2 linked regions of the Homo sapiens genome follow. The protein of the gene in region 2 interacts with the protein of the main gene of each other region in a pairwise test. Each region holds a gene or a part of one and is shown on either strand. Other genes may lie near its edges.

The links. The genes of interacting proteins can lie anywhere in the genome.
Region 1: the proteins of STX6 (region 2) and TMEM9 interact in binary tests that used the Homo sapiens proteins (3 or more experiments, as listed by UniProt).

Annotation. Positions count from the first base shown.
Region 1 is NC_000001.11:201,144,475-201,147,974, reverse strand, and holds part of TMEM9 (proton-transporting V-type ATPase complex assembly regulator TMEM9 isoform a precursor), read left to right. Parts: intron 1-1,126; coding exon 1,127-1,235; intron 1,236-2,639; exon of another isoform or gene 2,640-2,866; intron 2,867-3,500. UniProt on the Homo sapiens protein: Transmembrane protein that binds to and facilitates the assembly of lysosomal proton-transporting V-type ATPase (v-ATPase), resulting in enhanced lysosomal acidification and trafficking.
Region 2 is NC_000001.11:181,016,371-181,019,870, reverse strand, and holds part of STX6 (syntaxin-6), read left to right. Parts: intron 1-3,500. UniProt on the Homo sapiens protein: SNARE promoting movement of transport vesicles to target membranes. Targets endosomes to the trans-Golgi network, and may therefore function in retrograde trafficking.

The sequences.
Region 1 (3,500 bases), about 20 Mb from region 2:
GATTGGATTACAATGCAGTGCATTGGCGGGGGGTTGGGGGGAGCTGGCTATTGGGCACAGGTGGCTAAGCTGAGAGTTAAAAGATGAGGTGGCAAAGCCATGCCCTCCTGGTGAGAGTGTGGGTGTGGCTCCTTCAGAGAGCAGCCTGGCAGATCCGTGTGGCTGGAGGTTGGGAAAGTGGGTGAGGGAGGCGTAGCAAGAGATGGAACTGGAGTGAGGTGGGTTGGGACCCCTGGCAGAGCAATTGAGTTAGCATTGGCCCTAGGGGCTCTGTGGAGGCACTGACCGGGCCTAAGCTGGGGAATGACATGACCAGAGTTGCATTCTGGAAAACCACTTGGCTGCCGTGGGAAGGTAGTATGTGTTAGAAAGGCCAAACTCGAGGCAGGAGGGCAGCGCGGAGGCTGGTGCGGTTGTCCGAGGAAGATAGGATGAGGGCCTCAGCTAAGACACAGCAGTGGGAGAGAATAAAGGAGATGGATTCTAGGAATTTTTAGGGAAGTAAAATCACTGGCCTTTGGTGATTTTACTTAGATGAGAGGAAGGCAGTGTCAAAGATGATTTCCAGGGTTTGACCCGGACAGTGAAGTGGACGGTAGAAGTGTTCTCTCTGCCATTGCAAATGGGGAGCCAGTTTGCAGGAGTAGGGAGTTGAGGGCAAAGGGTGTGCAGGGGCGGGTGTAGAGTTCATGGTCTCTATGGGACATGCACATAGTGACTCCTGTAGCTCATAGAGGAGAGCGGCCCTGGCTGGAGATTCTGATCTAAGATCCGTCAGCTTCTGAGTTGAACCTTTGGGACAGATGAGCACATGCCGGGAGAACATAGCATGAGATGAGGAAGGCGGCTGGGGGTAGAACCCTGGGAACGTTGATGGTTTTGGAGCCAGCCCTGTAGGCAGTTTGGAGAGCTGGTTTTGATGTGTAAGGGGCATGGGCTGTGAGGCTGTGGGTTAGGAAGGGTTTCTGCCAGCCTAATCCTTTATAAGCCCTTGGCCCTCTCTGGGAGCACCCTTCACCTTTGCCTAGCCCCTACCTCTCAGCTCCCCTGGCTACCTGCTTCTCTGGTCTTGAGGCTCTAAGACGTGGTGGCCCTGCCTCGACAGCCCTGTCTCTCTCTGTTGTAGCAACTGCCTGCACGTGGTGGAGCCCATGCCAGTGCCTGGCCATGACGTGGAGGCCTACTGCCTGCTGTGCGAGTGCAGGTACGAGGAGCGCAGCACCACCACCATCAAGGTAACGCCAGGGTCTCAGGAAGCCAGTGGGATTCCCACACGCCATTCTCCAATCGCAGACTGGCCTACACCCACAGTTTTTCACTTTATTCTGGAATGTCCCAATGGCTATGAGACTGGCTTCTAGGCTGGCCTAGTGCAGACACTGGGACCCACATCCCACACCTTCCTGGAGCCAGCTCCCTTCTCTGCTCTCTTTCCAGTAGTTACCATTACAGTGAGAGGGGAGAGCCCTGGGAGAGCTGCTGGAGACTCCTTTTTCCCTGCATTCTTTACAGTTTATTTCGTTCCTCTCCCTTCTTCTATTCATCCAGTAAATCTCTTTTCGGTGCCTGCTATATTCTGGGCAAGATGCTGCCAATGGGGAGGTTGGGCTGCCCTCCTGGAGCTTAGTCTAATTAAGCTTCCAAAGTGACTAAGCTCCTCTAAAAAGCATCAGAGCTGTGGACTAGGGCTGGGTGTTGGGTGCTGGGAGAACATCAGATTGGTTCTTTTGTGTTTTCCTGAACCACCTTCTCATTGATCATTTGGGTGAATTCAGGAAAGAGATGATAGACACAGTCACCACCATAGACGTCACGAGGTGTCTGTTCATTCCTGCACCAGGCAGAACTTCCCGTGTCTTCTAGAGGCTGTGAAGCCGCCCTAGCAGAGACCGTCATGACCCCCAGCCCCCCAGTGCGGCTTCCTAGTCCAGGTTCTAACAATCCTGGGCCAGGCACCTGGCACACACAGTACTCACTGATTACATAGCCATTTCTTTTTTTGTTTGTTTTTTAGAGACTGGGTCTGACTCTGTTGCCTATGCTGTAGTCCAGTGGCACGATCACAGCTCACTGCAGCTCTGACCTCCCAGGCCCATGCAACCCTCCCACCTCAGCCTCCTGATTAGCTAGGACCACAGGTGCACATCACCACACCCAGCTAATTTTTTAAATTTTTGGTAGAGACAGGGTCTCACTGTCTTGCCCAGGCTTGTCTCGAACTCCTGGCCTCAAGCACTGCTCCAGCCTTGGCTTCCCGAAGTGCTGGGATTATAGGTGTGAGCTCCATGCCTGGCCTAATGTAGCCCTTTCTGTTCCAGTTTGTAGCATTTTTCTGCTTGTCCTTTGAAGAGTCTATAAATAGCATTGGAAAATAATTCTCATATTTAAAGGCACTGCTGGGTCCTCCATCAGGTTTCTCCTTTCGAGGCACATTTAGGGGGCGGTGGTCTTCACTGCTGTCCTTCCTGCCTATTCCAGGGAGCCCTGTGCTGTAGCTCCTCTGTGTTCTCACCACTCAGGGAAAAAGCAGCTGTCTGTCCTTCACTCCCAGCCAGTGCCCTGTGCAGACCCAACTCCTTTCATCCACCTGAGGCAGCCCCTCCTGCAACTGTCATTCTCCTTCTCTGAACTTGCTCCAGTGGGCCTCACCCTCCAGGGACCAGATGCCTGAGACCTGAAATTCAGAGCCAGATGTCACCGCTGCTCCCTGTTTGGCCGGGAGGGAACTTCCTGGCATGGGGACCTCATCAGATACAACTTCCTAATCCCTCGTGTTTCCCCCAGTCCTCCTACCTAGGAGGCTCCCCTCAACTTCAGCCTATTGAAGACCCAGCCTCTGTTCTCCTTCCGCCTTCCTGGGGTACAGGTGAGGTCTGATTATTTGCCCTGTTTAAACAGGCGTGAACGCGGTGCCCCAATCAGGTGGGACATTGGTCCAGTGGAACTTGGCTATTGGCTGAGCGGGGCACCCAGCTTGAAAGTCCTGAGGTTCTTTTTTTCACTCTTCTTCACAGTCTAGGTAGGGCAGGGCTGAGATCAGAAGCCGGCAATGGCCAGGCATTGTGGAATTAGGAAAAGCATTTGAGAGGGAGTCAGCAAGTCTGGGTTTGAGTCACACCTCCACCATCTGGTAGCCTTGGGATCACAGGTGATCTAGCCCAGCAGTTCTCAATCAGATGATTACAGCCCCCCCAGGGGGCATTTAGAGGTGGGTGAAGGTGCTTTTGTGGTCCCAATAACAGGTGTATTACCAACACTGTTACAGGGACCATGGATGCTAAATGTCCCACCCAAAATCCCAGAGCACCCACATTGAGAAACATTGAATTTGCCTCATTAAATCTGTCTTTTCTGTAAAAACAAAATGACTCCAGCTTGTGAAGCACTGTGTATGTAAGAGATTCGTGGAGTTGTTGTTCTACCCTTGGCTTTCCCCTCCCTGCAGAGGGGCTGATGGGAGGGCAGGCGTGACCTTCACCCCCAGCACACACCTTCTTACC
Region 2 (3,500 bases):
TTAATTGTTCCAAACATACATAAAAGGTTTTTGATAACTGAATTGCTATCAGTTACCAAGTTTACATTAATTAAAATTTAATTTCTGTCACACTAGCCACATTTCCAGTCAGTAGTTGTATGTGGCTTCCGTGTTGGACAGCACAGTGTAAGCTTTTCTAGAGTCCTAGACAGGTGTACCCTACTTAATATTATTCAGTGGCTGCTGCTGGCCTGCAGAATAAAGTGCCAACACTTCCTGACCTCACTGATCTAGCCTCTGCTCTCCCTTAGCCTTAGTACTCCAGCAGTGCCAGACTCAATACAGTGACTGTGATTGCTGTACTGGATGCTCTTACTCTACATGCACCCACACTGCCTGATTCACCCACGCAGCTTTCTGGAGTCAGTGTAAGCATCTCCCTTGCCTCCAGGAAGTGCTTCCTTTGTCACCCCTAATTATTGGACCTCTTCCTCTGTCTCTCTTTCATTATTAGACTATGAGCTCTGAGGTTTGGGACTGTTTTTTTTTTTTTTTTCCTCTGTATTTCCAGCCTACACCTTGAATATATAGTGTAAATGTTGAACACATACTCTTTGTTGATGGTGGTGATTGTGATGGAATGGTGCCTCATGGGTGAGAACACCACCAGCCAAAGGCCTAAGTTGGGCAATGTGTGTTAGAAATGATCTGGAAGAGCAGCCCAGGTGGAGTAGACAGTTTAGGGAAGTAGTAACAGCTCACATTTAAAGGATGCATCTCCAGTGCCAGGCATACATGTAAAGTGCTAAGTAAGCACTTTATATGAATTTTCACTCTGTAAAAACACCCATATGATGAATACTAGCCACATTTTAGAGATGAGAAGCTGAGGAAGTGTTAGAGGGGTTAACTTACTTGCCTAGGGTCACACAGCTAATAAGTGGTGTACTCAGGCTTCAAATTAGAACAACCTGATTTCACACTACTGTCAATACTTCCCAGTGCAGGTAAAATAGGGTCAAGTTATGTTGGCCTAAGGAGAATCTCATCTTGAGGCCATTACAGATTTTTAAAGCAAGGAAATGACATGAAATTAGGATTTTAGGAATATTGATTTGGTGGTAGTGTTGGATGCATCAGTGTGAGGAAAGATGAAAAAGGAGACCAGTTAGAAAGCTGTTGTAACTTATACATGCAGTGGTTAGTGCTTGGAAGTTTGAAGCTCCTTTTGGGAGGTTTTGACATTGTCAATGTCCTGTTCGGAACAGAATCCCACAACAGGGATTGCTCTTTTATCCTTATGAAGTAGGTATTATTATTGTCATCATTTCACAAAAAGGAAAATGAAACTTAGTAAAAAACTTCAACTTTATAAGCTTGTACGTAGAAGGGCCAGGATTTATATATTTATTACAAATATATATTATATATATAATATGGTCATTTTAAAAATTGGGATTATACGTTATATATGGTTTTATCACTTTTTCTTTTCTTTTTTTTTTTTTTTTTTTTTTTTTTGGGACAGAGTCTTACTCTGTCGCCCAGGCTGGAGTGCAATGGCGATGGCGTGATCTCAGCTCACTGCAACCTCTACCTCTTGGGTTCAAGCGATTCTCCTGCCACACCCTCCCAAGTAGCTGGGACTACCAATGTGCGCCACTATGCCTGGCTAATTTTGTATTTTTAGTAGAGATGGCATTTCACCCTGTTAGCCAGGCTGGTCTTGAACTTTGACCTCAGGTGATCCACACACCTTGGCTTCCCAAAGTGTTGGGATTATAGGCATGAGCCACCGCGCCTGGCCTGTTTTATGACGTTTTCATCTGTATTTCTTTATATCCTTCAGACTTCTGGGTGGCAGCTTTTAATGACTGCATTGTATTTTGTCATATAAATGTTCATCCTGGAAGATACATTATATTTATGATCACACTACAATTAATGTGGTGATAAGCCTACTTGTCATAGGTCTGTATTGCTGCTTCTGATTTTCATAGCCTGTATTCCTGGAGCATAATTGCTAATTCAGAGGGCAGGCACAGCAAAGCGTTTGATGCATACTACCACGTTGTCCTCCAGAATATTCCCCCTTGCCCCTCAAAGTGTTTGAGGGACCCAATTCCCTTGATTCCAGTACTGGGATTTTCATTAAAAAAATCTTTACTAATCTCCGGGTGAAAATATCATATTTAAATCTTGTAGTCTTCATCTTTGTATTCAGTAAGGATGTACTCAGTGTTTGTTGAGTGAACCCATTTTGATTGTTTAGTTCTGTAGTTTTTTTCCTCCCTTGTTGGCAAGTTTTTAGAATTAGCCTCCTTTTAGAATTTGCACCTTCTAATCAGACAAACCCTGAAGAAAACCATGTAACTGAGCATGTGGAGACAGAGTATAAGTGAGCCACTCCTGTGGATAAAAGGTACAAATACCATGGCTCTTTGCTATTTTATTGCTGTGGAGGTTTTGTGTGTCTGATGAGGATAGTTTTTTGTTTGTTTGTTTGTTTGTTTTTTTGAGACGGAGTCTCACTCTGTTGCCCAGGCTGGAGTGCAGTGGCGCGATCTCGGCTCACTGCAAGCTCCGCCTCCCGGGTTCACGCCATTCTCCTGCCTCAGCCTCCTGAGTAGCTGGGACTACAGGTGCCCGCCACCACGCCCAGCTAATTTTTTTTTTTTTGTATTTTCAGTAGATACGGGGTTTCACTGTGTTAGCCAGGATGGTCTCGATCTCCTGACCTCGTGATCCTCCCACCTCGGCCTCCCAAAGTGCTGGGATTACAGGCATGAGCCACTGCGCCCAGCCGAGGATGGTTTTTTTGTTTGTTTGTTTGTTTTTGAGACAGAGTCTCATTCTGTCACCCAGGCTGGAGTGCAGTGGCGCGTCTTGGCTCACTGCAACCTCCGCCTCCCGGGTTCAAGCACTTCTCCCTGCCTCTGCCTCCCGAGTAGCCCGCCATCACGCCCGGATAGTTTTTGTATTTTTAGTAGAGACAGGGTTTCACTGTGTTTACCAGGCTGGTCTTGAACTCCTGACCTCAGGTGATCTGCCCGCCTCGGCCTCCCAAAGTGCTTGGATTACAGGCATGAGCCACCGCACCCAGCATGATAACAGTTTTATTTCCAGGTTTTTGGCTGTGGATTGATGTTGAAATAATGACATAAGTAAGCTGATGAGTAAGATGGTATATGTTATGTTGTGTTCTTTAACCTTCTCTGTCTGCATATCTAGCTTTATTAACACTAGATTATGAGCTCCTCGAGGGCATCACGCATTCTATTCACTGTTGAAAAACTGTATTGGTATAGTCACTGTGAAAAAAATAACCCTTGTTTGTTAATTTTGGCCTAGTAAAATTGAATGTAAATCAAATTTAATACTTTCTAAAAAGCAGAATCCAGTGTTTCGTTGTAAGAACAAATTTGCAAGCCTTTATTATAAATTTGAGTGTTTAATATTATTTAGCTCCTTAGTTTGGAGAACACTATGCAGATAAGTGAAAGATATATTGTGTAAGATTTTGCAGTAGAGTTGAGATG